Homo sapiens: one gene and its partners. The protein of the gene in region 1 purifies or fractionates together with the protein of each later gene. This does not show direct contact. Each region holds a gene or a part of one and is shown in the gene's direction. Other genes may lie near its edges.

What was found.
Region 2: the proteins of ZFYVE1 (region 1) and LIMD1 purify together in Homo sapiens (affinity purification with mass spectrometry; 2 studies listed by BioGRID and IntAct, with this or other methods). This does not show direct contact.
Region 3: the proteins of ZFYVE1 (region 1) and LONRF2 purify together in Homo sapiens (affinity purification with mass spectrometry; 2 studies listed by BioGRID and IntAct, with this or other methods). This does not show direct contact.
Region 4: the proteins of ZFYVE1 (region 1) and MID1 purify together in Homo sapiens (affinity purification with mass spectrometry; 2 studies listed by BioGRID and IntAct, with this or other methods). This does not show direct contact.

Annotation. Positions count from the first base shown.
Region 1 is NC_000014.9:73,024,103-73,032,035, reverse strand, and holds the start of ZFYVE1 (zinc finger FYVE domain-containing protein 1), read left to right. Parts: upstream 1-4,929; 5' UTR 4,930-5,110; intron 5,111-7,093; 5' UTR 7,094-7,527; coding exon 7,528-7,933. UniProt on the Homo sapiens protein: Plays a role in the formation of lipid droplets (LDs) which are storage organelles at the center of lipid and energy homeostasis. Regulates the morphology, size and distribution of LDs.
Region 2 is NC_000003.12:45,590,558-45,597,758, forward strand, and holds the start of LIMD1 (LIM domain-containing protein 1), read left to right. Parts: upstream 1-4,193; 5' UTR 4,194-4,322; coding exon 4,323-5,730; intron 5,731-7,201. UniProt on the Homo sapiens protein: Adapter or scaffold protein which participates in the assembly of numerous protein complexes and is involved in several cellular processes such as cell fate determination, cytoskeletal organization, repression of gene transcription, cell-cell adhesion, cell differentiation, proliferation and migration.
Region 3 is NC_000002.12:100,319,482-100,327,412, reverse strand, and holds the start of LONRF2 (LON peptidase N-terminal domain and RING finger protein 2), read left to right. Parts: upstream 1-4,911; 5' UTR 4,912-5,319; coding exon 5,320-5,998; intron 5,999-6,031; exon of another isoform or gene 6,032-6,224; intron 6,225-7,931.
Region 4 is NC_000023.11:10,561,583-10,568,602, reverse strand, and holds part of MID1 (E3 ubiquitin-protein ligase Midline-1), read left to right. Parts: intron 1-999; 5' UTR 1,000-1,055; coding exon 1,056-1,715; intron 1,716-7,020. UniProt on the Homo sapiens protein: Has E3 ubiquitin ligase activity towards IGBP1, promoting its monoubiquitination, which results in deprotection of the catalytic subunit of protein phosphatase PP2A, and its subsequent degradation by polyubiquitination.

The DNA of each region.
Region 1 (7,933 bases):
ATACAGAGTTTCACTCTTGTTGCCCATGCTGGAGTGCAATGGCACAATCTTGGCTCACTGCAACCTCCGCCTCCCAGGTTCAAGCGATTCTCCTACCTCAGCCTCCCAAGTAGCTGAGATTACTGGTGGCTGCCACCACACCTGGCTAATTTTTTGTATTTTTAGTAGAGATGGGGTTTCACCATGTTGGTCAGGCTGGTCTCGAACTCCTGACCTCAGGTGATCCACCTGCCTTGGCCTCCCAAAGTGTTGAGATTACAGGCGTGAGCCACTGCACCTGGCTGCAAGTGAGGTTTTTATTTTTATTTTTATTTTTTTAGATAGGGGTCTATCTTGCCCAGGTTGGTCTTGAACCCCTGGGCTCCAGTGATCCTCCCACATCAGCCTCTCCAGTAGTTGGGGTTATAGGCACCTGCCACCACACCAGACCCAAAGGTTCTATCTATACAAACACCACGTCCCTATGGTCATGTGTTACACATTCCAAATAGATTTACATCCCAGATGTAGTGGCGCATGCCTGTAGTCCCAGCTATTTGCGAGGCTGAGGCAGGAGAATTGCTTGAACCTGGGAGGCAGAGGTTGCAGTGAGCCAAGATCATGCCTCTGCACTCCAGCCTGGGCAACGGAGTGAGACTCTGTCTCAAAAAAAAAAAATATTTACATCCAGAAGGCAGGGTTGTGTTTGCTGTTTTTCCCATCATTTTATTTTCTTTATTTTTAGGAAGACGGAAAAGAGATGTGGGGGAGGGTTCTCACTATATTGCCCATGCTCTTCTGGAACTCCTGGGCTCAAAGGATCCTCAGGTCTCAGTCTCCAGAGTGGCTGGGATTACAGACATGCACCACCACCGTGCCTGGCTAAAGGAAACTTTTTTTTTTTTAGACAGAGTTTCCCTCTGTCACCCAGACTGGAGTGCAATGGTGCGATCTCGGCTTACTGCAACTTCTGCCTCCCAGGCTTAAGTGATTCTTATACCTCACCCTCCCGAGTAGCTGGCATTACAAGCAGGTGCCACCACACCTGGCTAACTTTTGTATTTTTAGTAGAGACTGGATTTTGCCATGTTGGCCATGCTGGTCTTGAACTCCTGACCTCAAGTTATTTGACCACCTTGGCCTCCCAAATTGCTGGGATTACTGGTGTGAGCCACTGTGCCCAGCCAAGGAAACTATTATGGCTCCAAGTTACTATAGGGGTAGTCCTATCTGAAGTCCAATGGCACCATCTCAGCTCACTGCAACCTCTGCCTCCTGGGTTCAAGCAATTTTCCTGCCTCAGCCTCCTGAGTAGCTGGGATTACAGGCGCATGCCAACACACTCGGCTGACTTTTTGTATTTTTAGTAGAGATGGGGTTTCACCATATTGGCCAGGCTGGTTTCAAACTCCTGACGTTGTGATCTGCCCGCCTCGGCCTCCCAAAGTTCTGGGATTACAGGCGTGAGCCACTGTGCCCGGCCCAGAAATTTTTTAATGTTTATTCTTTTTTTTTGAGACGGAGTCTCACTCTGTCACCCAGGCTGTAGGGCAGTGGTGCGATCTTGGCTCACTGCAACCTCTGCCTTCTGGGTTCAAGCAATTCCCTGTCTCAGCCTCCTGAGTAGCTGGGATTACAGGCGCCCGCCACCAGGCCCGGCTAATTTTTGTATTTTTAGTAGAGCCAGGGTTTTGCCATCTTGGCCAGGCTGGTCTTGAACTCTTGACCTCGTGATCCACCTGCCTCGGCCTCCCAAAGTGCTGGGATTACGGGCATGAGCCACTGCGCCCGGCCCTAGAAGTTGTTTTTAGAAAACAATTTCTCAGCCATGTTTCATAATCCAACCATTGGCTCTCTGCCCAATATTGAAAATATAATTTTCAGCAATTTAATCCTCATATATGGGTCATTATTATGTAGATTTGATTTTGCTAGTGGTTTACTTATGTCCCTGGAATCATAAGGTAAAAAGTATTGGACTTCAAGTCAGCAGATACAGTCTTGTCCCAGATTTGTCAATAATTTGTTGTGTAACCCTGGCAAGTCACTTAATCTTAGTTTTCTCTTCTGGGTTAACAATTATCAAGATAGAATCATAGTATGTTGGAATTGGCAGGGACTTCATTAATTACAATTTCTATTTTGTGGAGAGGTTGAGTGACTTACCCAACCACCTGTATAGTCAGGACGTTTTCTTTCTTTCTTTCTTTTTTTTTTTTTTGAGATGGAGTCTCTCACTCTGTCACCCAGGCTGGAGTGCAATGGCACGATCTCGGCTCACTGCAACCTCCAACCCCCGGGTTCAAGTGATTCTCTTGTCTCAGTCCCTCTAGTTGCTGGGATTACAGGTGCACGCCGCCATGCCTGGCTAATTTTTTGTGTGTGTGTGTGTTTTAGTAGAGATGGGTTTTTACCATGTTGCCCAGGCTGGTCTTGAACTCCTGAGCTCAGGCAATCCACCCGCCTCAGCCTCCCAAAGTGTTAGGATTACAGGCGTGAGCCACTGCGCCCAGCCTCTTTTTTTTTTTTTTTTTTTTTTGAGATGGAGTTTTGCTCCATTGCCCAGGCTGGAGTGCAGTGGCACAATCTTGGCTCACTGGAACCTCTGCCTCTGGGGTTCAAGTGATTTTCCTGCCTCAGCCTCCAGAGTAGCTGGGATTACAGGCACATGCCACCATTCCCAGCTAATTTTTTGTATTTTTAGTATAGTCATGGTTTCACCATGTTGGCCAGGACCTCAAGTGCTCTGCGTGCCTTGGCCTCCCAAAGTGTTGAGATTACACACAGGAACAACCACACCAGGCCTTCAGGAGCTTTTCTAGAGCAAGCAGTCAATCTTTGGCAACACAGACTCAGGCTTTCTTTCAATGTTGTTTCAAGAAACAAACAAAAAGTGAAAGCACTAAACAAATATAAGGCCATAAAAAAAGAAAAAAAAGCCTGATAAATGTTAACCATTAGCCTGCACTGTAGCCTGAAAACTTATCTGAAAATTTAGCCCATCTAACGCAAAGAAAATTTCTTTCTTTTTTTTTTTTTCTTGTTTGAGACAGAGTCTTGCACTGTTGCCCAGGCTGGAGTGCAATGGTGCGATCTTGGCTCACTGCAACCTCTGCCTCCCGGGTTCATGTGATTCTCCTGCCTCAGCCTCCCGAGTAGCTGGGATTACAGGTGCACACCACCACACCCAGCTAATGTTTTGTATTTTTAGTAGAGATGAGGTTTCACTATGTTGGCCATGCTGGTCTTGAACTCCTGAGCTCATGATCCGCTCTCCTTGGCCTCCCAAAGTGCTGGGATTACAGGCATGAGCCACCGTGCCTGGCCCTCAAAGATAATTTCAAATTGAGAAGTTCTGAAAGTATAATAGCTTTTTTTTTTTTTTTTTTTTGAGACAGAGTTTCCCTCTTGTTGCCCAGGCTGGAGTGCCATGGCGTGATCTCGGCTTACTGCAACCTCTGCCTCCCAGGTTCAAGCAATTCTCCTGCCTCAGCCTACCGAGTAGCTGGGATTACAGGCATGCATCATCACGCCCGGCTAATTTTGTATCTGTTAGTAGAGATGGAGTTTCTCCATGTTGGTCAGGCTGGTCTCGAACGCCCGACCTCAGGTGATCCGTCCACCTCGACCTCCCAAAGTGCTGGGATTACAGGCATGCGCTACCGCGCCCAGCCTGAGAAGTTCTGAAACTATAGAAGGAAAGATCAGAAAAATAATAGGTAGGAAAAAAAATTCATGGTTGGCTTGGAGAATACCCTTGAAGGGTGTTAAGTAAAAATGATAGGAGGCCTTTGTTTTGGACTAAACTCCTGCACCAGGCCCCAATAGACCTGGCTAAAATAAAAATGGAGTCACCCATGCTAAAGTTTCACCTCACCAAATCCAAACTAAGTTGTTACCAAACCCAAGCTAAGTTGTTATCTGACCTTCAGAGAAATCAGGAAAGAGGGATAAGGACAGCCAGTTTCCCAAACAGGCTTGTTTTAATGTTGCATGATAATGAAGCTCCCTCTGTTGTAATCCTTACACAAAAGAAGTAGCCTGAAGTAACTGATGTCAACTAATCAGTTATTTTTCTATTGTTCTGTCTCTCTGTCCTCACCTTCCAAGGAAAGTAGCTTAGAAGTGACCAATATGTCAAGGTCCCATGAGAAGACTGAAAAAAAGAGAAGAAAGAGGAAAGAAAAGAATGACAAGAAAGAGAAAGAAAGAAACCAATATGCTCTTTGTTCTTTGCTTTTGCTTCCTCAAGCTTTTCTCTGTCTACAAAGCCAACCTCTCCTGCTCAGCTCATCAGAACATTCACTCCACTTTCTGGAATGAAGTGTTGCCTGATCCTAGAGTCGCAATAAAGCCAACTGAGATCTTAAAACTAAATTCGTTGTAATTTTGTCCTTTGCCAAGGGGGGAAAAACAACAAAAACTTCCCAAGAGTACCTATATCCTCTTATCACTTTTTCTGGTCTTTTCCTTAGTTTTTGCGAAGTGAAATTGGGAAGGTGGAGACTGTCTGTGCTCACACGTTTCTGAGGGAATGGTGTGCAAGAGGTTACTTGAATCCAAATTAATTGACTCACCATTTCCCACTTATACTAGACATTATTACATCAGTTCTCTAATGTAGCACCATGCCTTCCCCAGTTACAACCCAAAAGAACGTGCTGAAACCTGCGGACACCACACTCAATGCAAAAACTCCAAGTCCCGAAATCCTCCGTAGCCTGTCCCCACCGCCTCCTCGCAAGAGCAGCCTCTTCAGTACTGGGAGTTGTAGTCATTCAGAGTCTTCCTTTCCGGGATGAGGGGCGAGAGCGCGCCTCGAGGAGCTACATCTCCCAGGAGGCAGTGCGCACTACGCCCTTGCTGGCGCCGGGATCCTCCCTCTCTCGCTCCTCCCTTTCTGGGCTGCACCGCTCACGCCTTCCTGTTAGTCCGAGCTGGGAGAAGTTCACTCCGATCAGCTGATCCCAACTGACAACAGGAGAGGAGGAAGCCCGGGAGGCAACGAAGGAGGAGGGTGGCGGAGATGGAGATGAGGATGGATCTGCCGGTGTCCTGAGGAATAGCCTCTGCCCCCACTGGCGCCCTGCGGCCCCCCGACGCCGCCTTGCTGCGGCCGAGCTTCTCAGTGGTGGGATCCCCGGGCCGCGGCGGGCAGGGCAGGGCGGGGAGGGCACGGCCCAGCGCGGGGCGAGTGATCGTCCTGGGGCTCAGGCTGCCCTCGGGAGGAAGGGGGGGCGGGTGCGGCGGGGGTGGGGGTGGGGTGGTATAAACAATGGATTCGGCTCCGGGTTTTGCCGGCGTGGGGGGGATTTTGGGGGACCTTCTTTGTTCTTAGGCTCCGCTCCTGCCCCTCGGGTTGTGGCGGTGGTGTCCGGGTGGAAGGAAGGGTGAGGAACCCCCGGCTGGGGAGAGGTGTCGAGGTGGGGGCCCGAGTGGGCAAAATGTTTGGTTGACATGGCCGGGCGTGAGGTGTACTTTTGAAGGTTGATTTTATATTTTTCTCAATTGTGACAAGTTTGATTTTTGTTTCTGTTTTGGGAGCTGGCTGGGCATGTCTGAGGTTAGATTGTAGTAAATAAGATCCCCTAGTCACTCCCTTCGCCTTCCTTGTTTATCTGAAAATAAGGTTGATAGATTGATTACTGTAGGGGAGGAGTGACTATCAGAAAGGCAGGGCTTTACACCTTGTCGGGGCCTTGGAATGCGGGTCAAGGCTAGGGGGAATTAGGAATATAATTGTCAAAGTGACAAAAGCCCCTTTCTTGCCCCAGTTATCTTTTTTCGTATTTTGAAGTTATTTTTAAGTTAGTTTTTAAGTGACAAAGAGAAAAATTATTTGTTTTGATTCACTGCAGGCCTGGCTTTGCCATGGGTCAAAGTAGAGGAATTGTCTCCTGTTGCTCCTTTTTTTTTTTTTTTTCAGTTAGTGAAAGAAGGGACAGAAGAATTACAGTGTAAAAAAATTGTTTTTAAAGATGAAATTGTTACTATTGTTTCTAAGTTTTGAGTCTTTAATATACATCTAGCTAGAGTTGAAACAATCCAGTTACAAGGCTAACCAGGTCGGCCCAGGTATTTGATAGATCTAAAGTTTATTATTACATTTTCATTAGCTTTGTGAAGGCCTCTCCACTCCTCCCAATTGTGGGATGCATGTGGGGGTGCAGAGGGCTGTCCTTCCAAGGACTACTCACTTAGTGATTTAGATTCTGAATTTAATATCTGAATGAACAGAAAATTCCAGTCTGGGAAATAGAGCAGCAAAGTCTCTTAAATGCCTTGGGCCTAGAGGTGGCGTTTGTTGTCAAGAGGAGGAGCTTTAGCCACAATTTTGAGATTTTTTTTTTTTTTTTTTTTTTTGAGGGAGTCTTGCCCTGTCTTCCAGGCTGGAGTGCAGTGGCAAGATCTTGGCTCACTGCAACCTCCGCCTCCTGGGTTCAAGTGATTCTCCTGCCTCAGCCTCCCTAGTAGCTTGGATTACACGTGCCTGCCACCATGCCCAGCTAATATTTGTATTTTTAGTAGAGATGGGATTTCACCATGTTGGACAGGGTAGTCTCGAACTCCTGACCTCAAGTGATCTGCCCACCTCGGCCTCCCAAAGTGATGGAATTACAGGTGTGAGCCACTGCGCCTGGCTATACAACAAGCCAGTGTAAGTGTTAAGATAGAAAATGAGATTTCTGGCCAGGTGCGGTGACTCACGCCTGTAATCCCAGCACTTTGGGAGGCCAAGGCGGGCAGATCACCTGGGGTCAAGAGTTCAAGACCAGCCTGGCCAACATGGTGAAACCCCGTCTCTACTAAAAATACAAAAATTAGCTGGGCATTGTGGCTAGCGCGTGTAATCCCAGCTCCTTGGGAGGCTGAGGCAGGAGAATCGCTTGAACCCGGGAGGCGGAGGTTGCAGTGAGCCGAGACTGTCCCATTGCACTCCAGCTTGGGCAGCAAGAGCAAAACTCTGTCTCAAAAAAAAAAAAAAGAAAAAAAAGAGGAATGAGATTTCTCTCAGCAGTTCTGGGCTAATATTTAATTTAGTCAAAAAAAATTTTTTTAAAGGTGCACTTCTGTTTTTTAGATGAGTGAAATCCTTTTCCTTCCTCTATTCTAGGTATCCCCTGAAATACTGACTTCAGGTCGAATTATATTGAAAAGCTCCTGACCACTTTCTTTCATTACCAAAACTTTGTAGCTGATGTCCAACCGATGAACCCACCACCGTGAACCCATCAGACCTCTCTCAGATAGCCATAAAAGACCCTTCCAAGTCAATTTTGACCACATCTTTGCTTGCACTTTATGGAGGATGAAACCATCAAACCAAATCAACGTTGCTGCTAATACAAGAGTCTTAGAGGCAGCAAATTAAAAATTTGAACATTTGTTTGTGAAGAACTATAACAGGACATGAAAGGTGTTCTTTTTTAAAGTGTTCAGAACCCTGTGGAAGTTTCGTGCAGTCTTCAGACTCAAATCTTCGTCTTCACCCCCGGGGCAAGCTCAGTGACTATTATATGGTGGGTGTGTTTCCTTACCAGCGTGAGTATGAGTGCCCAGACTTCCCCAGCAGAGAAGGGCCTGAATCCGGGGCTGATGTGCCAGGAAAGTTACGCTTGCAGCGGGACTGATGAAGCTATCTTTGAGTGTGATGAGTGCTGCAGTCTGCAGTGTCTCCGCTGCGAGGAGGAGCTCCATCGGCAGGAGCGCCTGAGAAACCATGAGCGGATAAGACTCAAACCTGGCCATGTCCCTTACTGTGACCTCTGCAAGGGTCTCAGTGGGCATTTACCAGGTGTTAGGCAGAGGGCAATAGTGAGGTGCCAGACCTGCAAAATTAACTTGTGCCTGGAGTGCCAGAAGAGGACTCATTCTGGGGGTAACAAAAGGAGACACCCTGTTACTGTGTACAATGTCAGTAATCTCCAGGAGTCACTGGAGGCAGAAGAGATGG
Region 2 (7,201 bases), on another chromosome or scaffold:
GGGTATCATAACCCTGGATTGGGGTGCTCCTAGGTCTGGGCTCCCCAAAGGGCTGCAGCTTTTCTCTCCTTCTCTCTTTTCTCCTTCTCTCTTCTCTCCTTCTCGTTGCCCACAACGTGGCAAGCAAGGGGTGTGTTTCAGTCCTGTTTGTGTTACAGATCTTTTAGTGCCACCATTTGCCCAGTGGGTCCCAAGTTCTTGTCCTGTGTCCACAAAGAATGAAGTATGCAGACAACTGGAGGGTGAGCAAGGCAGAAAGGAGCCTCACTGAGTGGCAGAACTGTTCTCAGTGGGTATCTCCTTTCCTCAGGCAGGTTGTCCCGATGAGTGTCCAGCTCTCAGTGGAGAAGAGACCCACAGTGGGTAGCTGCCTTCCACAGGCAGGTTGCCCCGATGTCTCTGCAGCCTTCAGCAGAGAGACCCAGAGTGGGTAGCTCCTATCTGCAGGCAGGTCATCCCATTGTCTGCCTGAGTCTGGCTGAGTCTGGTTTTTTTTATGGACTTCAGAAGGGAGGAAGTGTGTGCTGATTGGTCCACCGGCAGCCATAGGCAGGCCCAGGAAAAGCACCATAAATTCTCACTCCAGTCTGCAGGACTGATAGCTCAGCCCCTAGGTTTCAGGCTGTCCCTGTCTTGAAGGGGGCTTCACTGGGGACCCATCCCATTTCACCCAGGAGCCTGATTGCCCCCTGCTGCCATCAACCTGCTGGCCATGGCACCCATGGCACCCAGGCTGTTCATGCTGAGGGGTGCCTGCAGGTACATGCCGAACTGCCCTCAGCCTCACCCTGGCCTCCCTCCCATGCTCATCGGCACCCAAAGTCTGGAGGGGGCCGAGGCGGCAGGGGACTGGTGTGTCAGTGCTGCCCTGAGTGCGTGCACCCCCAGCTGGGTCGTGACAGTATCTGGGCTCAGCTTCAACTTTGCTCCAAAATCAGAATGGGCACCAGGAGAGGCCAGGCAACAGGAGCAGGCACTTCTGAGCCTGTGGGAGTAGGGGGGCTTTCTAGGTCCCCGGGAGCACAGGGATGCCCAGGTCTGCAGCCACAGCTGGGTGGATGCAGCTGTGCCTGGGAAGGCAGGGCTCCCGCCCCACCAACTCAGAAGGGAGTGGGGCTCCTGCCTGTTCCTAGCTCCTACCAGCTCTATGGAGCATGCAGTCACGGCCTCACCTCGCCATTGCAGCTAGCATCATGGCAGTGGCTGCTCCAGATGGACCACTGCTGCCATCACCAAGATAGGATGAAAAGAGAAGACAAATGTAAGAGCACTGGTTGGTGTCTGTGGCTCCTGCACCAGGGTCCCAGCTGTCCAAACTGAAAACCCAGGAAGCTGGCTCTGAGCTTACTGGACTTTGCAGAGGGATGGCCATATATTCCTAGCACTTTGTCAGCTACAACTGCCATATTTGGAGGTCAGGCAAAGTGAGCCAGTCTTCCACTCCAAAATCCAGTTTTTAATTAATAAGTATTACCCAACACCTAAGGAGTGTTTAATTATGATTACCTCTGAGAAAGGGGATGGTAGGCAACTTTTAAAACTTTATATATGTCTGTATTGTTCAAAGTTGTTATAGAAACATGTATTACTTGTAGATAAAAAACCAAAAAAAATTTTTTAATAAAAATACTTCATTTTAGTATAGTGCTTTATAGCAGTGCTTCTGTAACTTTATTGTGCAAATAAACCGCCCAGAAATCTTGTTAAAATGCAGATTCTGATTCAGTAGGTTGGCAATGGGGCCTAAGATTCTGCATTTTCAACAAGCTCCCTGGTGATATGGAGTCCATTAACCATACTTTGGGTTTACGGCAGCGGTCCTCAATCTTTTTGGCACCAGTTTCACAGAAGCCAATTTTTTCACAGACGGGATGAAACTGTTCCACCTCAGATCATCGGGCATTAGATTCTCATAAGGAGCGTGCAACCTACATTCCTCATGAGGGTAGTTCATAATAAGGTTTGTGCACCCCTCTGAGAATCTAATGCCACTGCTGATCTGACAGGATGTGAAGCTCAGGCGGTAATGCCAGTAATGGGGAGTGGCTGTAAATACAGATGAAGTTTCGCTGGCTTGCCTCCTCTCACCTCCTGCTGTGCCACTCAGTTCCTAACAGGCCACAGACCAGTACTGGTCAGTAGCCCAGGGGTTGGGGACCCCTGGTTTACAGAATATAAAGCACATTCATATATATTATCTTATTTGTTCTCTGTCACAACTCTGGCAGATAGGGGTTCACTAATTCACTTATTCGACCATTAGGTACTACTATTAATATATACCAGGCACTTGGCATACAGATATGGTCAAATGGAGTGGGAAACCTACCACCCAACCAAACAAAAAAAAACGCATGTTAACCAACAAATAAATAATTATAAATAGTTATCAGAACTGAGCAGGAAGTAAAGAGGGTGCTGAAAAAGAACAACAGGAACCACTCTGAGGAGGCCTCTAAGAGGAGGTGACTTCAGCAGGGATGGGAAAGATGAGCCACTCAGTTTAGGGGCAAGCTCTGGGCAGACACCAGGAAGCTCCTGCAGCTAGAGTGCAGGGAGGGAGGGAAGATCCCTAGATCTGGCCCAGAAGGCTGCGGCAAGGGGCCGATTTCAATTTAATTCTGGGGTAAGCACTGAGGATTTAGGTAGAGAAGTGTCTGTTCTAGTATTTGCCTTAGGATCACGATGGCTGTAGTGTGGGAAATGAAACCTCTCCAGGATCGCCTGGGAACTGGTATAGGGAGTCCCGGGCCATGCGGGGGCGCCAAGGAGTCAGGCCTGGTGTCCCTGCAGCCGCGCGGATCCACTTGCAGATGGGTCCCTCTACGAATAACGAGCCTACTAGGGCACGTGCTTTTACTGCTGCACTGAGGACGTGAAATGCGCGCAGGCACAACGAGACTTTCTTCTTTTTCGCTCTTTCAGAGGGCCCGGGCTCCCATCTACGCTTTGCTGGTTACGTTGGCATGTTGGGCATTTCCCCCTCTCTGCCTCAGTCTCCCGACCTGTCAAAGAGGACGGTGGGCCAGCCATGGGTGACACGCCCGTGCGCCTCTCCAATAGTGCACCTCGGGCAAGCCGGGCGGCGGGCACAGCCTGGACGGTGCCGGCCTCGAGAGGCACAAAGGGCTGGCTTTCCACCGGGGAAACTGAGGCAGTGGAGCGAGGAGCGGCGTCCTCGAAAGTCCTCGCAAACTCCCAGCGCCTGTGTTGGGCCCATGCAGGCTACCCAGGCCGCCCGTCTCCGAGCGGAGGACCCCGCCCAGCGCTGCCAGGGGCGGGGCCGGGCTGAGGACCCGAGGCTGGAAGGGAGGTCGGAGCACCCAATTCGGTCCAGGACTCGCAGGGGGCGGCAGTGGCGGCGGCGAAGTCCCGTGCAGTCCCAGTGCTAGAGCGTGGGACGGACTTGTGGGGCACCCCTCGGTGTTCTCCAGCCAGGCCTGGGGGCAGGAGGCCCAGCCACGCTGCCGGGTGCAGGCCTGCCCCTGGGCGCCCGCCCGCGCGCCGTCCCCGCCCCTCGGCCGCCCCCTCCGCCCCGGCGCGGGCTCGGGACGTGCAGAGCCGGCGAGCGAGCAGCAGGGACTGCGCCTGGCGCACTCACTTCCGCGTCCCGCCGCCCTCCGGCCCGCGCGCGCCGATCCGCCGCCGCCATCGGACAATGGGCCGCCAGCCCCAGCTGCCGTGAACTTCCTGCCGCTGCTCGGCCGCCCGTGCGTCCCGGACGGCGTTCCTGCCAGGCGCCGGCCGGGATCGCAGCTCCGGGGAAGCAGCGGAGGACCCAGCGCCTGGAACGTACCTGCGCCTCAGCCGCCGCGCGTTTGCTCCGGCCCGACTCGCGGCCTCGGCGCCCTCCCGGCCGATTCAGCTTCACCCGGCCCAGTCGGCTGCTGCCTTGCTGTGAGTTTCCGTGTTTGGTTGCCTAAGGAGGATGTGATTTTACTTTTTTGCTGTTTTCTTTTTCCTTTTATAATTTGAAGAGGAGAAAAGAACTCCGCTGAGCAGGCCCGGGACGGCGAAGTGCCACCAGCTACCCCAACAAGGACGTCTCCAGGGGAAAGGGAGTTGGAAGCAAACTTGGTCCAGCTGGCGTTGAGGTCTCAACTTCGGCTGGACTCTTAAATCCTGGGGTCATGCCCTTCACGCTAGGCAGGTGGAAGTCTTTACTTGTACTGGGCCGGACTTGAGCCCCGACCCTTCGCCAGCATCTCCCCGCTGCCCTCAACACACACACACACACACACACACACACACACACACACACACACACACACACACACACACACACACGGCACCTGGGCTAGGCCCGGACACCTGTCTGCAGCATGGATAAGTATGACGACCTGGGCCTGGAGGCCAGTAAATTCATCGAGGACCTGAACATGTATGAGGCCTCTAAGGATGGGCTCTTCCGAGTGGACAAGGGTGCAGGCAACAACCCCGAGTTTGAGGAAACTCGCAGGGTGTTCGCCACCAAGATGGCCAAAATCCACCTCCAGCAGCAGCAGCAGCAGCTCCTGCAGGAGGAGACTCTGCCCAGGGGGAGTAGAGGCCCTGTCAATGGAGGGGGCCGCCTGGGCCCACAGGCCCGTTGGGAAGTTGTGGGCAGCAAGCTGACTGTGGATGGTGCTGCCAAGCCTCCTCTTGCTGCCTCGACAGGGGCACCTGGGGCAGTCACCACCCTCGCTGCTGGGCAGCCCCCGTACCCACCGCAGGAGCAGAGATCCAGGCCATACCTGCATGGCACGAGGCATGGCAGCCAGGACTGTGGTTCCAGGGAGAGCCTGGCGACTTCTGAGATGTCTGCTTTCCACCAGCCAGGCCCCTGTGAGGATCCTTCCTGCCTCACTCATGGAGACTATTATGACAACCTCTCCTTGGCAAGCCCAAAGTGGGGTGACAAACCAGGAGTGTCCCCCAGCATCGGCCTGAGTGTAGGGAGTGGGTGGCCTAGCTCCCCGGGGAGTGACCCACCACTGCCCAAACCCTGCGGGGACCATCCCCTAAATCACCGACAGCTCTCCCTGAGCTCCAGCAGGTCTTCTGAGGGTAGCCTCGGTGGTCAGAATAGTGGCATTGGTGGCCGCAGCAGCGAGAAGCCAACAGGCCTTTGGTCCACTGCCTCCTCCCAGCGGGTGAGCCCTGGCCTGCCTTCCCCAAACTTGGAGAACGGAGCACCAGCTGTGGGGCCTGTTCAGCCCAGGACCCCTTCTGTGTCAGCACCCTTGGCCCTGAGCTGCCCCAGGCAAGGAGGTCTTCCAAGATCAAACTCGGGGCTGGGGGGTGAGGTTTCAGGTGTGATGTCCAAACCCAATGTGGACCCCCAACCCTGGTTCCAGGATGGGCCCAAATCTTACCTTTCCAGTTCTGCCCCGTCATCCTCGCCAGCTGGTCTGGACGGTTCACAGCAGGGTGCGGTCCCTGGGCTGGGGCCGAAGCCTGGCTGCACAGACCTTGGCACTGGTCCCAAGCTCAGCCCCACCAGTCTTGTCCATCCAGTGATGTCCACCCTGCCTGAGTTATCTTGTAAAGAGGGTCCCCTGGGCTGGTCTTCTGATGGTAGCCTGGGATCTGTGCTCCTGGACAGCCCCAGCTCCCCTAGGGTAAGGCTGCCCTGCCAGCCCCTCGTCCCAGGTCCTGAGCTGAGACCCTCTGCTGCTGAGTTGAAATTAGAAGCCCTCACCCAACGTCTGGAGCGAGAGATGGATGCTCACCCGAAGGCTGATTACTTTGGTGAGTGAGAGGCTGGTGGAGTTGCCTATGGTGGGGCGATGGGGTTCTTGAGATTGGGGAACATGCCCCCTACCAGGGATGCTGTGGGCTGTAGTTACCTCTCTTTGAGTGGCCTGTTTTTTTATTTTTTTGTTTTGGGCTTCCTCTTTCAGCTGCTTTTTCTGATTCAGAAACTTGAAAGCATCCTGGGGCAGAAAGCGGACCTTGCAGCTGGGGTTACCCATGTGTGAAGGGTGCAGCAGGGTGGGATTGCTCATGACTGCTCTCAGAAAAGAGAAATGCTGTGACTTTGGATTTCAAGGGTTTTGGGTGTGACTTTAGAGCCTCTTGCAGTGACAGGCTCATATAGGACTTCAGTGGGACCAGCTTTCTCAGGGGCAGCTACCCCTGAGCGTTCAGTCTGTAGTTGGTTGGGCAGATCTGGTTGATCTGGCTGTTTGAGGGACCAGTGATTGAGGCAGGGGCTCTTGACTGCCGTGTGTGTGTGTCTGTGTGTGTGTCTGTGTGTAGATGGGTACTTATGTGCAGTTGAGGCAGGTCAAACACTACCATGAAAGACTTGTAGAGCAGTGGATCTTTTTTTTTTTTTTTTGAGATGGAGTCTCGTTCTGTAGCCCAGGCTAGAGTGCAGTGGCACAATCTCGGCTCACTGCAACCTCCGCCTCCCGGGTTCAAGCAATTCTCCTGCCTCAGCCTCTTGAGTAGCTGGGACTACAGGCACGTGCCACCACACCTGGCTAATTTTTTTTTTTTAAGTAGAGACAGGGTTTCACTGCGCTAGCCAGGATGTTCTCAATCTCCTGACCTCGTGATCCGCCCGCCTTGGCCTCCCAAAGTGCTGGGATTACAGGCGTGAGCCACCGCGCCTGGCCAGAGCAGTGGTTCTTAAGTGTAGTCCCTGGATCAGCAGCATCCCTTTGCCTGGAAACTGATTAGAAATGGAAATTCTTGGGCCCCACCCAAGACCTACTGAATCAGAAACTGTGGGATGGGACCCAGCCAGCCGTGATCCTGCTGTGTGGTGAGATTTGAGCCCTGCCGCACCATGTGCCTCCTAACCCAGCCTACACCCAGGTAACAGCCAACAGCCAGGTTGCACCACAGCCGTGGCACAAACTATGATGGAAAATGTGTCTTCCTGGTTTTACTCAAACTTGCATGTTTTGTTTTATTCTCTTTTTTAAAACCACAAACTCTTGGAGACTGCTAGCTTCAACTTTTTTTCTTTGCACGAGGTTTAGTGGTAGTTGTATCTTTCTGTTGAGTAATGATTAGTTGTCTCATAAGAGAGCTAACTAGAAAGACAGCCTATTCGCAGAGAATCGGAGGGGTTTTTCTTTTTCAGTTTTTAACTTTGGATAATTGACCCCCGTGTTCCCCATAGCCTGAGTCCTGCTGGGGTAGCAGCTCTGCCTAGTGGAGGGCAGGGACAGGGAAGGCCCTGGGAGAGGAAGACAGCTGGCTTACTGCT
Region 3 (7,931 bases), on another chromosome or scaffold:
AGAGCAAGACTCCGTCTCAAAAAACAAAAAATAAAAAATAAAAAAAAGGGGCTTTATAAAAAAAAATCCTTTTAAAAAGAGTAAAATTTCACTTTCACTCACCACTTCTTGTCTACCCAAGTAGTTGCATCAATTTCTTTTCTTTATACATTTTGAGAATCTTATTAATTTCATAGCCGCTTAGAATTTAGTATATTCACGGTGAGTTGAACCTTGTATCATTAGGTGCTTTTTGCCTTAAAATCTATTTTATCTGCTATTAATACAGCCATCCTAGCTTTATTTTTGTTAGCATTTACCTGATATATCTTTTTTCATCTTTTTATTGTTAACTTACATCTGTTTTCATAATTTAGGTGTACCTCTTTAAAATAACATATAGTTGGACTGGATTATTTTACAATCTGATATATTCAGTGATTAATTGGTAAATTTAGTCTTCTTACATTTATTAACATTTTTGATACATTTTAACTTATTTCTGTCCTCTTACAGTGTTTCATTTTGTTGCCCGTTTGCTCCTTTTTCTCACCTTTTGAGTTGATATCTGTATCTTCTTTTTACCAAGATAAGAACTATTCACTAGTTTCTTCTCTTTGTCTTCTTACTACTTTTGGGGTTTATTCTGTTGGTTTTTAATCCCCAACTTTTTGAATTAGATGTTTAACACATTGCTTTTTAGTTTTTATTATTTTTTAACACAAGCATTTAAGGCTATAGTTTTCTGTGAAATATAGCTTTAGAAGCATCCTATATATTTTTTAAAATTTTAATTTTTGAGTACCTCTCTTTAAATCGACACATATTTAAAAGCAGCCCCAATGAGGTATAATTGCAATACAATAAGATGCATATATTTAAAGTATATAGGCCAGGTGCAGTGGTTCATGTGTGTAATCCCAGCACTTTGGGAGGCTAAGGCAGATGGATCGCTTGAGCTCAGGAATTCGAGACCAGCCTGGGCAACACAGTGAAACCCCATCTCTATAAAAAATGGTTTTTGTAATAAAAAAGTATACATTGTGATAAGTTCTGACACACAAATACACCCATGAGAACATCGCCACAATCAAGGTAACAAATGTATGCATCATCCCTAAAAGTTTCCTCATGGATCTTTGTAATCCCTCTTCCCATCCCCACATGACCACTCATGTGTAGTGTAGATTCTATTAGTGTAGATTCACTCATACTTTCAAGATTTTTTTTTTTTTTTTTTGAGGCAGGGTCTCACTCCTGTCGCCCAGGCTGCAGTGGTGCAATCATAGCTCACTGCAGCCTTGACCTCCTGGGTTCAGGCGATCCTCCTACCTCAGCCTCCTGAGTAGCTGAGACTATAGGCATGTGCTGTCATGCCTGGCTAATTTTTTGTAATTTTAGTAGAGAAGGGGTTTCACCATGTTGCCCAGGTTGGTCTCGAACTCCTGGGCTCAAGCAATCTGCCCGCTTTGGTCTCTCAAAGTGCTGGGATTACAGGCATGTGCCACCGCACCCAGCCTAAGATTTTTGTATAAATAGAATAATTTATACATACGTACTCTATCTTGCTGTATTATTTCACTCAGCATAATTATTTTGAATTTCATACATGTTATTTGATACATTAATAGTTCATTCCTTTTTATTTCTGAGTAGTTTTCAATTGTGTAGAGAAATCATAATTTGTTCATTCACCCGTTGAAAGACATTTGAATTATTTCTAGCTTGGGGCTGTTACAAATAAAGCTGCTATGAAGGTTCATGTAGAAGTGTTTGAATGGACATATGCTTTTATTTCTTTTGGATAAATACCTAGAAGTGGAATGGGTGGTTAATATGATAAGTATACAGTTAACATTTTAAGAAACTGTAGTCCAAAGTGGCTGCACCATGGTACACTCCCACTGACAATGTGTGAGAGTTCTGCATATGCCCTGTATTTGCCAGCACTCAGCATGGTCAGCCTTTTTAATCACAGACATTCCACTAGGTGTGCAGTACTAACTGCTTGGGGTTTCATTTGCATTTCCCCAGTGGCTCATAATGCTGAGCATCTTATTTGCCATCAATATGTCTTCTGTAATGAAATGACTGTTCAAATCTTCCACTCACTTTTTAATCCAGTTCTGTATTTTCTTATTGAGTTCTTGGATTTCTTTATATATTTTTGGTTCGTACTTTATCAGCTATGTGATCGGCAAATATTTTCTCCTAGTGTGTAGCATGTCTTAGCAGTGTCTTTAAAACAGCAGAAGTCCTCAATTTGATCCAATTTATTGATGTATCAGTGCCCTAGAAGGAATACTTTTAAATTGGGATTTGTTTTATGGCTCTAAGATGTTCTATATCGGTAAATGTCCCATGTGCACTTGGAAAGAATGTGTATTCTGCTATTGTTGGGTGGAGTGTTCTATAAACATCAATCAGATTGAGTTGGTTTGTAGAATTGCTCAAGTCTTCTATAGCCTCACTGATTTTCAGTATACTTGTATTAATTGTTGAAAGAGGGGTGTTTTATTTTTAAGTTCTGGGGTACACGTGCAGGATGTGAAGGTTTGTTACATAGGTAAACGTGTGCCATGGTGGTTTACTGCACCTATCAAACCATCACCTAGGTTTTAAGCCCCACATGAATTACTTATTTTTCTTCATGCTCTCCCTTCCTCGGTCCCACCGCCGACAGGCCCCAGTGTGTGTTGTTCCCCTCCCTGTGTCCATGTGTTCTCATTGTTCAGTTCCCACTCATAAGTGAGAATATGCAGCATCTGGTTTTCTGTTCCTGTGTTGGTTTGCTGAGGATAACGGCTTCCAGCTCCATCCATGTCCTTACAAAGGACATGATCTTGTTCTTTTTATGGTGAAAAAGGGATATTTAAATATCCAACTATAATTATTAATTTACCTATTTCACCTTACAGTTCTATCAGTTTTTGCTTCAAATATTTGAAAGCTCTGTTATTGGGAACACACGCGGTTAGGACTATTATGTCCTCTTGACCAACTAACACCTTTATCATTATGAAATGGCTGTCCTTTCTCCTAGCAATGTTCTTGGCTATGTAATAGACTTTGTCAGCTATCAATATAGTCACTCTAGATTTATTTTGCTTAGAGTTAACTAGAACATCTTTTTCCATCCTTTTACCTTTACCTTATTTGTATTTTCATATTTAAAAGTTCTTTTTTGGTAGGCAGCATATATCTGGGTCTTCCTTTTGACAATCTTTGCCTTTTAATTATGGTATTTAGACAATATTTAATGAACATTAACCGATATAATTGGGTTTAAACCTGCCATCTTGCTATTTGTTCTCTATTTGTTTTATCTAATTGTTTCCTTCCTCTCTTTTTATGCCTTCTTTTGGATTAATAGAGTTTTTTTTAACAATTTCATTTCATCTCTATAGGCTTTTAAACTATAGCTCTTTGTGTTATTTAGGAGGTTGCTTTAGGGTTAGAGGACACATCCTTAACTCATTACAGTCTTTCTTAAAGTGACATTATACCATTTCACATATAGCATTAGAACCTTACAACAGTATCCTGCCATTTCTCCTCTACCTGCCTTTGTGTTATATTTGTGATATATTTTATTTCTATGTGTTATAAACCTCACAACACACTAACATTTTTGCTTTAAACACTTCTGGCTCTCAGCAGGCATACCTCCGGCAAGCTTCTTTCTGTTCTCTTGCTAGATATTTGTCTAAAATAAGAACAAATAGGATCTGAGATCATAAGGTTTCACAATCTTTACTGTATGGTCTGTGCTCTGAAGCTTTTTCCCCATTGCTTCCTGATTGTTGGTTGTGAATTTGATGGATAAATGACCCTCAAATATAAGTGAATTGTTATTCTATAAAGAAAGCAGATAAAAATCCAAACAGTGATTGAAAAAGTGAATTTGAAATAATTCAGTAATGAAAAAGAGACCCAAACAGTACACTGTTATCAATTAAGTTAGGTAGACAGCTGGGGGAAATCCTTCATGGAAAAGGAGGTGGGTACTCTGCATTTGTTTATTGTAGAACTAGAGGGCTGGCCAAAAATTGCCCCTTTTTCCCTTTTAGGAACTGGTCTAAAATGTTCTCTCACTTAATGAGGCATTTCTCCTTTCCCAAAGCCAGATGTGGTCGAGGTATTGTATATTTTCTTTAGCCAGCAGTTTTAGATGTAGAAAAACCTCTCCAATTTTTTAAAAAAATTTATTCTTGAAATATGAACAGTAGTATGAATTCTAGAATATTGTAATGCATTTTATTGTATTCAAATACACAGGATAAAACAGATACTGTGACGACAGGAAGAAGGGAGCAGGCTACATAGGAGAAATACATAGGCTATATAGGAGAAATTATGAACCCGGTTAATACGCACAGAGGATTTTAATTTAAACCTTGCTTGTACACCAACGGAGCGTTTAGCTCCCTCTCCCCAGCAACTTATGTCTGCAGTACTCCATACTAGGGCACCCTTTCTATTTCTATTCTAATTCTATTAATTAGAATTCTATTTCTAATTCTATTTCTGCTTCCTAATCAAGGGCACAATACAATTGTCCACTTCTCGAATCCCTCCTCCTCCTGGTATCTGGTTCTCTTGGCCCTCCACGTTCTCTGTTAAAATGAGTTCTCAAAGGCCTCAGCCTAGAGTTAAGAGAAGAAGCTCGCTGAGGCGGGGCCTCTGGGTGCCCACTTCAGCCTCCCCAGTCATTTAGGACAATTTCCTAAGTCGAAGCTAGAGATGCGTGATGCGTTTGGTGACTTTTCCTGGGTTCTTGCTTAAGCGGAGCCACAGGTTGTGGGGGCGGCCAGGCCTCTGGGGAAGAGCAGGTGCCGCGGTGCCGGCGCGCCAGCAGCCCGCGGCCAAGGCCACCTGCTCCCAGGGCCCCGGCACCTCTGCGGGGAGGCGGCAGGCAGAGGACGCGCGCGCAGTCGCGCAGGAGCCCTCAGGCGAGTGGGGGAAGCATCGCAAGAGACGCGGACCTGGAGCGCGGTCACTGCGTTACCGCAGCGACCTGGGTTACCTAAGCCGGCGGGACTGAGAGGCCGCTGCGCGTGGGCAGGGGCTCAGATTGCGCCCGCGGTGCCTGTCCCGGCCCCCACCCCGGAACGATTGCAGCCCTGCGGGGCTCGCCGCCCACACCGCGCTGAGGACGCTGCCCAAGCCAGGCGCCCGCCCCCGCCCGCGGTCTCAGCCGCTCGCAGCGCGCCGCCCCCAGACGCGCGTGGCTGCTGGCGAGGGCTGAGACCGCGCTCCCGCCGGCCAGTTCCCAGCAGCAGCGCATCCTCCCTGCTCCGCGCCTTCGCTCCGGACCCGCGTCGTCGCAGCCCCGCGGTGATGAGCCCCGAGCCGGTCCCGCCGCCGCCGCCGCCCCAGTGTCCTGGCTGCGACCGCGCGGAGCCGATCGCCCAGCGCTTAGAGGAGGGCGACGAGGCCTTCCGCGCGGGCGACTACGAGATGGCAGCCGAGCTCTTTCGCTCCATGCTAGCCGGGCTGGCGCAGCCGGACCGCGGCCTGTGCCTGAGGCTGGGGGACGCGCTGGCCCGCGCCGGCCGCCTCCCCGAAGCCCTGGGCGCGTTCCGCGGCGCCGCGCGGCTCGGGGCGCTGCGGCCGGAGGAGCTGGAAGAGCTGGCGGGCGGCCTGGTGCGCGCCGTGGGCCTGCGCGACCGGCCGCTGTCCGCGGAGAACCCGGGCGGCGAGCCCGAGGCGCCCGGCGAGGGAGGGCCGGCCCCGGAGCCCCGCGCGCCCCGCGACCTGCTCGGCTGCCCGCGCTGCCGGCGGCTGCTGCATAAGCCGGTGACGCTGCCCTGCGGGCTCACAGTCTGCAAGCGCTGCGTGGAGCCAGGGCCCGCGCGGCCGCAGGTGCGGCGCGTGAACGTGGTGCTGAGCGGCCTGCTGGAGAAGTGCTTCCCGGCCGAGTGCCGGCTGCGCAGGCTGGCAGGCCAGGCGCGGAGCCTGCAGCGCCAGCAGCAGCCGGAGGCCGCGCTGCTCAGGTGCGACCAGGCCCTGGAGCTGGGTGAGTCGGCTGCGGGGCGGGTCCGCCTCCCCTACACCTGTCCGGCCCAGCAGCGGGGTGGGGAGCTGGCCGGTGGGCCCGAGGCTTTGGGCTTTCGAGAGCTTTGTCTAGGCTTAGGGGTCACTTTGCTTCCTAAGGATGGGAAGGTGAAAGGTGGGGGCGGCCACACCCTGCAGCCAGGAGAGGCCAAGTGCACCCCACTGGTTTTGTCTTTTCCAGGATGCTGGTAAGTTTCCCGCGGCCCCCGGAGCAGCTCTGTAAGGTCCTGTAATTGCTTTTCGGCATCTTCTGCGCTGTTGAGGAGCGGGGAGGATGACGAAATATTTTTGCTCATCCTGAAGGAAAATGCACATAGCTGACACACTACAGGCGCAGAAAGGGGTGCCTTGTGCTGGGGCAAGATTTGCTTTGGGTTTCAGCTAATATAGCCAGGAAGGAACCGCCTCCACTCTGCTGTAATCACGTCAAACGCTCCGGCTCTAGCCTGCTCTCTGTCTCAGAGGCCATCATTAGATGTCATGGCGTATTTAACTTACTAGATAGTTACACTGACTAGTGTGTGTAGTTTTAAATTGTTCATTCAGTCATTTCCTTATTTATCTGAGGCCTAAGGCCAGCAACAGGCACTCTCCTGCCTTCACCCAGCCACCACCTGTTAACACTATTTAGCTGAAAGGAAGACCAAACTTCTGTCATCGTTTTGGCTTTGACATATGAGTATGCGCTCTATTGGCAGTTGTTTTGGGCAGTGTGAGGAGGACGGTTTGCTTTCTGGTTTCACCGGTTTTATAATAGGGCATATACGATTTAAAGCACTAGCCGAGAAGACTTGTTGAATCTCTTGTTACTAAAATAATCTACTACCATGCTGTAGTCAGTGCACATTTTATTTTAAACTTAGGATTAAGGTTTTCCCTTTTAGAAGGCACAAATTATAAAGTGACTAGCATTCAATTTTGTCTTGCAAAAAAAAAGATCCAAATATTGAACAAGTGTTCAATATCTGTATCTAAATTGGGATATTCTCTGCTGGAATAGAGCACTTAACTCAGCTTTTCTAACGAGTATTCTGTAGTTTTTGCAACCAACATATCCATACTTTAACAGGCATATTTTTTAGTTTTCTACTAATTTAGGTATTGATGGTGTTAGAGCAGCACTATCCAATTAGAACTATTGTGTAAGCCACACATAATTTGGGATTTTCTTGTAGCTACATTAAAAGGGTGAAAAAAGCAGGTGAAATTTATTTTAGCAATTTTTAACCCTATACATCCAAAATATTATTTCAACATGCCTTCAATTTTAAAAAATAATTGAGATTTTACTTTTTTAAACTAAGCCTTTGAAATTCGTTATATATTTTGCATTTACTGCACTACCCAATTCCAACATCAAATTTTCATCAGAAATACTTCATCTGTATTTAGATGTTGGAGAAGATGTAGAAAAATGAAAACTGTGATATTTATATGCTGCTAATGGGACTGCAAATTATGCCCCTGAAAAATATTTGGTAGTATCTACAGATGTTAAGCCTGTCCTTGGCCAAATAGTTTCAAAGAGGTATATGCATATGTGCCCCCAAAAGAATGTGCAATTAGATACAAGAGTGTATGTCATTGTTAGAGATACCCCAAAAGTGCACACAACCCAAATGTCCAGTAAGAGCAGAAGGGGTGAATATATGATTATGTTTTCATAGCATACTATACAGAAAGAAAATAAATCAACTACAGTTACAAACTACAATGTGGACAAATCTCACAAACATAATGTTAAGTGGAAGAAGCCAGACTCAAGCATTTTTACTATATGATCCTATTTATCTGTAAGCCCAAACAGACAAAATTACTGTAGGATGTTAGAAGTAAGGACAATGGTTACCTTGGGGGGATGAAAAGGGAATAGTGATTGTGAGGAAGTATGAGAG
Region 4 (7,020 bases), on another chromosome or scaffold:
TCCTGCCAGCCTGGCCTGTTGCTGGCAACAGTGACAAGCCCGTGGTGGGAGTTTTTTGGCCAAAAGGGTCCCTCAGCAGTTTTGTAAGCCTCCTTAAATTGCTTTCTCAACTGTAATCATTATCATTGTCATAACATAACTTATCACATGAATATGATGACCACTGAAATCCTTGTTCTAATTAACTAAATCATTGCTCTAAATATTAGTCATTGGTACTCAAACTTACTGCAGCCACTGAAAAAGCCCCCAGATATTTTTCTCCACTTCGTTCTGCCTACCCACGTCCCACTGCTGGATTAAACAATAGAATTATTCAGAAACATAATGAACACATGCCAAAAATATTGCCTCTATCACAATCATCTTTGTGAAAGTCAATGTTTTTTCTCAGGAATATATTTTGGAAAATGACATCCCACACTTAAACACGATCATCTCTGCTGAAATCCCCACATTTGATTTCATGTACATTTCATGCCCATTTCTATAGTTACTGCCTTCCTATTGTTCTGAAACCTGGTTTGGTATTGCAGAGTAAAAGTCCTTAAATCTCGTATACATTAATACGTAAGTTTATAAATTCAAATTTATAAAAGACTCTAGTTTATTGATGAATATTTCTACATTTTAATTTTCTGTGCGAGGTTAAACCTGACTCTGACACAATAAGATTATTCTGATTAAATACAAATTATGGAAATTACAGTTTCAATTACATTCTAGTTTTGAATGAAGCCTTTTAAAAAACAAAATTGAAAAAAAAAATTGCACATTTTCAGTTACTGAACTTTGAGAAAATGTTAACTGGTATATGATGGCTCAGGATGCTTTTTCCTCCTTTTTTCCCCAGTGAATAGAAAGAGAATTATTTGGAATGTACACACACTTACCCTTTCATGACCTGTGTTTGGAATTATTCTGAGATGCATTCAAAGCTGACACCCCCCTATGGTTGACCTCCCTGTGCCTAATCAAATCTTACATTCTTGTTTCCAGATAGCTGATCAGCTTCCTTGGGTTTTGCTGATGACACAAGAGAGCTTTGCCTGAAGATGGAAACACTGGAGTCAGAACTGACCTGCCCTATTTGTCTGGAGCTCTTTGAGGACCCTCTTCTACTGCCCTGCGCACACAGCCTCTGCTTCAACTGCGCCCACCGCATCCTAGTATCACACTGTGCCACCAACGAGTCTGTGGAGTCCATCACCGCCTTCCAGTGCCCCACCTGCCGGCATGTCATCACCCTCAGCCAGCGAGGTCTAGACGGGCTCAAGCGCAACGTCACCCTACAGAACATCATCGACAGGTTCCAGAAAGCATCAGTGAGCGGGCCCAACTCTCCCAGCGAGACCCGTCGGGAGCGGGCCTTTGACGCCAACACCATGACCTCCGCCGAGAAGGTCCTCTGCCAGTTTTGTGACCAGGATCCTGCCCAGGACGCTGTGAAGACCTGTGTCACTTGTGAAGTATCCTACTGTGACGAGTGCCTGAAAGCCACTCACCCGAATAAGAAGCCCTTTACAGGCCATCGTCTGATTGAGCCAATTCCGGACTCTCACATCCGGGGGCTGATGTGCTTGGAGCATGAGGATGAGAAGGTGAATATGTACTGTGTGACCGATGACCAGTTAATCTGTGCCTTGTGTAAACTGGTTGGGCGGCACCGCGATCATCAGGTGGCAGCTTTGAGTGAGCGCTATGACAAATTGAAGGTTAGTCCGATCCGCCTTAAGCCAACCCCTTTCTGCCAGAAAATGTCATGGAAATAAAAAGTGTATTCACTGCTAGCTACATGGCAGGTGAAGGTTTTCTCCTCACCTTTGTTATCTGATTAGTTTTAGCATGTTTTTGGCAACCTATAAATGTTACACAATAAGGGTATCTTGTAAAAGTTGACTGCTGCTTGTAATTTTAGCGTTGTCAAGGTGAGGGCAAATTCTAAAAATCTGGATCATTTTCAATCCATGCAGTTTTTCTGGATCATTTTCAATCCTTACAGTTCTTCCAAAGAGAGTGCTGCCTCTCTCTGAGAGAGAGGGAGAGAGAGAGAGAGAGAGAGAGAGAGAGGGAGAGAGAGGGAGAGAGAGGGAGAGAGAGAGAGAATGACAGATAAAATCTGGCTTTGGGCATTTGGGGAACACTTACTTTTCTCACTCATCTGGGAAAACTAATTCACTCTCATTGTACCTGTATCTAGTTACTGCACAAACAAAAGAATAGAGGGAAGAATGTCTGTAGCAAATGTGGGATTTTAGAGGACACGTGACCTTTTATTCCTTGTATAAACGATATCCAGCTTATTGGTGAAATTCAGTGCTCTGACAATCTCAGGTTTCACGAAAGAATTCCTTTTCGTGTAGGCTCTTTATTCAGTAAGGTTACAGTCAAGACTATTTGAACTTCATTTTTTACATGAAATTATTAACCTAACTCCAGCTTGGGGGATAATGATTAATATGACTATATGTGAAATAAAAGGATCACTTTCTAGGCAGGGCGTGGTGGCTCATGCCTGTAATCCCAGCACTTTGGGAGGCCGAGGAGAGTGAATCACTTGAGGTCAGCAGTTCAAAACCATCCTGGCCAACATGGTGGAACCCCATCTCTACTAAAAATAAAAAAATTAGCCGGGTGTGGTGGTGGGTGCCTGTAATCCCAGCTACTCGGGAGGCTGAGGCAGGAGAATCACTTGACCCTGGGGGGTGGATGTTGCAGTGACCCAAGATCGCGCCACTGCGCTCCAGCCTGGGTGAAAGAGCGAGACTCTCTCTCAAAAAAAAAAAAAAAAAAAATCACTCTCTAAGTATGGATAGAAAGCACTAGGGAAGAAATAATAAGCCAAGTCTCCACATGTTTGTTCAATTTCAGGCAACAGTGGGTCTAATTATTGAAAACTCAGCTGAGAGAGTTTGAGTGAGATACTATGTTCATCAGCTAATTTTAGATCACAAGACACCAATTAAAAGAAAGGAAGTATAAATTAAAAGCTCTAAGTAAATATATATTGAAGTCCTTCCTCTCAGGAAAAACACATACCATGTTGTTGAGCAAACAAAATGAATCACATGATCAAAAGAGTGTTATCACTTAGAAAACAGTGTCACCTTTAACAAATGGTTTCTATCACCTCTCCTTAGCGCTAATGGGTGGTTGTGTTTACTGGGACCACATAGTTTATTCTGTGACAGTGGGATTAACGGACCACATCTGGGATTTGGCTTTGCTATTTCTTGACATGTTGAGGGAAGCCGACATGCTGAAGTCAATTCCTGCTTCTCAATGTCACTTGGGCAACAAAAGCATCACCTGGGCAGCATGTTTCACTTCAAGTATCCAAAGAATTACTGGTGCAAATCCATCTTTAAACCATGTAGAGGAAGTCAAGCACAAGGACTCAGGTGACACAGACAACAGAAGACAGCCGCTGACAGGCTTTCCAGAACAGTGCATGGCAGCACAGGAGAAAAGTACCACCAAAGTTAATCATAGCAAAGGCAATGCATGTATGAGCTGTGCCTCTAGAGCAAATTCTGAAGAAATTGCGAAGGCTATTAATTTTTACAAACCAAGGTAATCTTTTTTTTTTTTTTTTTTTTTACCCCTTTTTTGGTTGGTGGTGGAGCTGAAGGGAGAATATTTAGGATAACTGAACAGAGATGTTTGATTTTTGTTTTCCAAAATGTAAACATGCCAGATCTTTGTTTCTTTATTAAAAATGTTCCTTTGATTGGATTTGCACTACCTTTTAATGATTGTTTGTTAAAACACCACAATCATAATGATGTTCAATATTTAACAACTCCCAGGCTTGATATTTATTTAAATCTTGTGGTCAGGTTCTGCTCAAGTACTCATGGCCTGTCACAGCAGAGTTATTAAATATTTACATAACATCTCCAAATTTATGAAGAATTCCTGTCATGCTCTAGCCCTCTTTGTGATAAAAACAAAACTCTTCAGTTACGAGCCCTGCACACTTTAATTGAGCCAGTGGCCTATCGGTTGTTCTACTGTCACATGGAGGGCCTGACAATTAATGATGTGGTTTCTTTTTATTTCCTAGTTACAGAAATATAAGCATATAAACAGCATCCAATGCACCGAAACACATTTACAGCCGTTCAATAAGATGTACTTATGAGCATTTGAACAAATAACTTATCGACATAGCATGTTTGTTTTAAAACATGCCACTTACGTTAGAATTTTAAAAATAATAATTATGACATTTGGATGTCTGATATTTCAGTTATCGCATACTTATGAACATATGTACATCCTTGTTTTATTTAAAACCTAAGCACAATATAAATGTTGATTTTTTTGAAGGAAGTAATAGCATACCAAGAGGACCAAAACCAAGGAAGTATATTTCTGTTAATTACTACTTTGGTCTGAAATGTGCTCTGAACATGCATTTTTCTGTAGCTCTAGGATCTCATATAGATGTGGATTTGTGATGATGTGAGAACACAGATAAAGCATGGAGGAATTTGAGGATGCTTTCATTGATAAGACAATAGATTTGCTTTATTAATTTGCATATGTAAGGACCCTGGTGTCTTTGGAAACATTTTTGTCCTTCTGTTAGTAAAAGTTTATTACCTGAAGAAGGGAATTCTGCAATTATTATGAAGAATAATTTCTTGCAATAATACTAAACTTTGGGGGACATATTTTACTCATTAGATCTCAGTATAAGAGATGTTTGTTTATACAAAAAATCAGAATATCATTTTGTACATTACAATCTTTTTCTAAGTGTAAAAGAAAAAGAGATAAAAATTCTAACATGTTGAACTCGTACAAATAAAATCATCCACATCATGTAAAATAGCATCATGTCAGTAATCTAACGCTTTCGGAGACTATGCATTGAGAGGCACTCATGAAATATTGAAGCAAAGAGAAAATTAAGGTAGCATTTCCTGAACTCTACTAAGATAAAAAGAGAAAAGTTTTCCTGCCAAGTGCAAAGGTCTCTAAGTGGAGCGTATCCATAATGTGGATATTTCTTTACATCGTTTTAATTGAATTTTAAGAAGCCTCTCAGTCCTTCAAACTTGGAGGAAAAATTTGATTTGTGAACCACATAACATATAAGAGAATTTAATATAATTAATGCATTCCAGAGTTTTCAAGGAATTAAAATGCAGTAGTCCTCTTTTTCTGTTCCAACATACAAGGTTGGAGCTCTTGTTTCTTTTCTCTAATTATACCTATAAAAATATACAAATTGAAAAAAACTGACCTTTCCTTGCCTTTCAGTTTCAGCATAGCCCCTTCAAATTAGCTGAAGCTGAAGTTCCAAACTATTGTTTTGCTATTCTTATTCTAAAGGCTGGCTGAGGAAGTTTGTTTGTATAATGCATGTTTCAACGGATCATCCCATTGTAATTTTTTAATAGTTTGATTTAAAAGTTCAAATTAAAGCTCAGCATTTCTATGTAGCACTTTTTATCTGGAAGTGAAGACATGAGATTTCATTCTTGGGTTTAATTTATAGATTGTAAGGTTCTATGTTTGAAAAATCTTTCCCAGTTTGCAACTAGGAAAGTTGTAAGTGTATACTGAGCTAGACTTCTTTTTATTATAATTTCTATAACTTGTTTCTTCTTTGAAAACCAGTAGCAGGCATAGTGCAGGTTCTAGTGCTATGGTGTGTGATGCACACACATACTTGCATATACATATACATACATGCATTTATTTATTTATTTAATATTATAATCTTCCTGAATCTAAGTTGGAGACAAATTCAAGTGACCAGTATTTTCATTAGGGATATTTCATTCTGCAGGCAAGAGATGACAACAAACATAGCAATAATAACTATATTCCCATCACTCAAAATATTTTACCTGTTCCTTGAATGTTTGGTAGATGGATACAAGTCAACTTTGGACTTGGTATATTTTTTGTGGGAAGAGTCTTATCTTGAAGGGGTTTTTTTTTGAAGTTACAAATATGTGTATTTTTTAAAATGTGTCTTTCTGTTTATTGGTTTCTAGTTTAAATCCCTTAAGATCAGGGCTCAAGACAATTGCATATGGTCTCACTTATGGATGCAGTATGCTTTAAGAAATATTAGAATAAGTTTATTGTATCTTCAAAATTTCCATGAGCTCATTAATGTTTTCAGTCTGTGTAATCAATTAATGACTAGGAGAGGTGCACTTAGGCCTTCCACTCAGAGAGTGAAATTTTCTTTTTTTTTTTTTTTTTTTTACTTTAAGTTCTGGGACACATGTGCAGATTTATTACATAAGTATACATGTGCCATGATGGTTTGCTGCACCTATCAACCCATCATCTAGGTTTTACACCCCACATGCATTAGGTATTTGTCCTAATGCTCTCCCCCGCTCGCCCCACAACCCTGACAGGCCCCAGTGTGTGATGTTCCCCTCCCTGTGTCCATGTGTTCTCATTGTTCAACTTCCACTTATGAGAGAGATCATGCGGTGTTTGGTTTTCTGTTTCTGTGTTACTTTGCTGAGAATGATGGGTTCCAGCTTCGTCCGTGTCCTTGCAAAGGACATGAATTCATTCTTTTTCAGGCCTGCATAGTATTACATGGTGTATATGTGCCACATTTTCTTTATCCAGTCTATCATTGGTGGGCATTTGGGTTGGTTCCAAGTCTTTGCTATTGTAAATAGTACTGCAATAAACATATGTGTGCATGTGTCTTTATAGCAGAATGCTCTATAATCCTTTGGGTATCTACCCGGTAATGGGATTGCTGGATCAAATGGTATTTCTGGTTCTAGATTTTTGAGGAATTGCCACACTGTCTTCCACAATGGTTGAACTAATTTACAACCACCAACAGTGTAAAAACATTCCTATTTCTCCACAGCCTCGCCAGCATCTGTTGTTTCCTGACTTTTTAATAATCGCCATTCTAACTGGCTTGAGATGGTATCTCATTGTGGTTTTGATTTGCATTTTCCTAATGACCAGTGATGATGAGCTTTTTTTCTTCATATGTTTGTTGGCTGCATAAATGTCTTC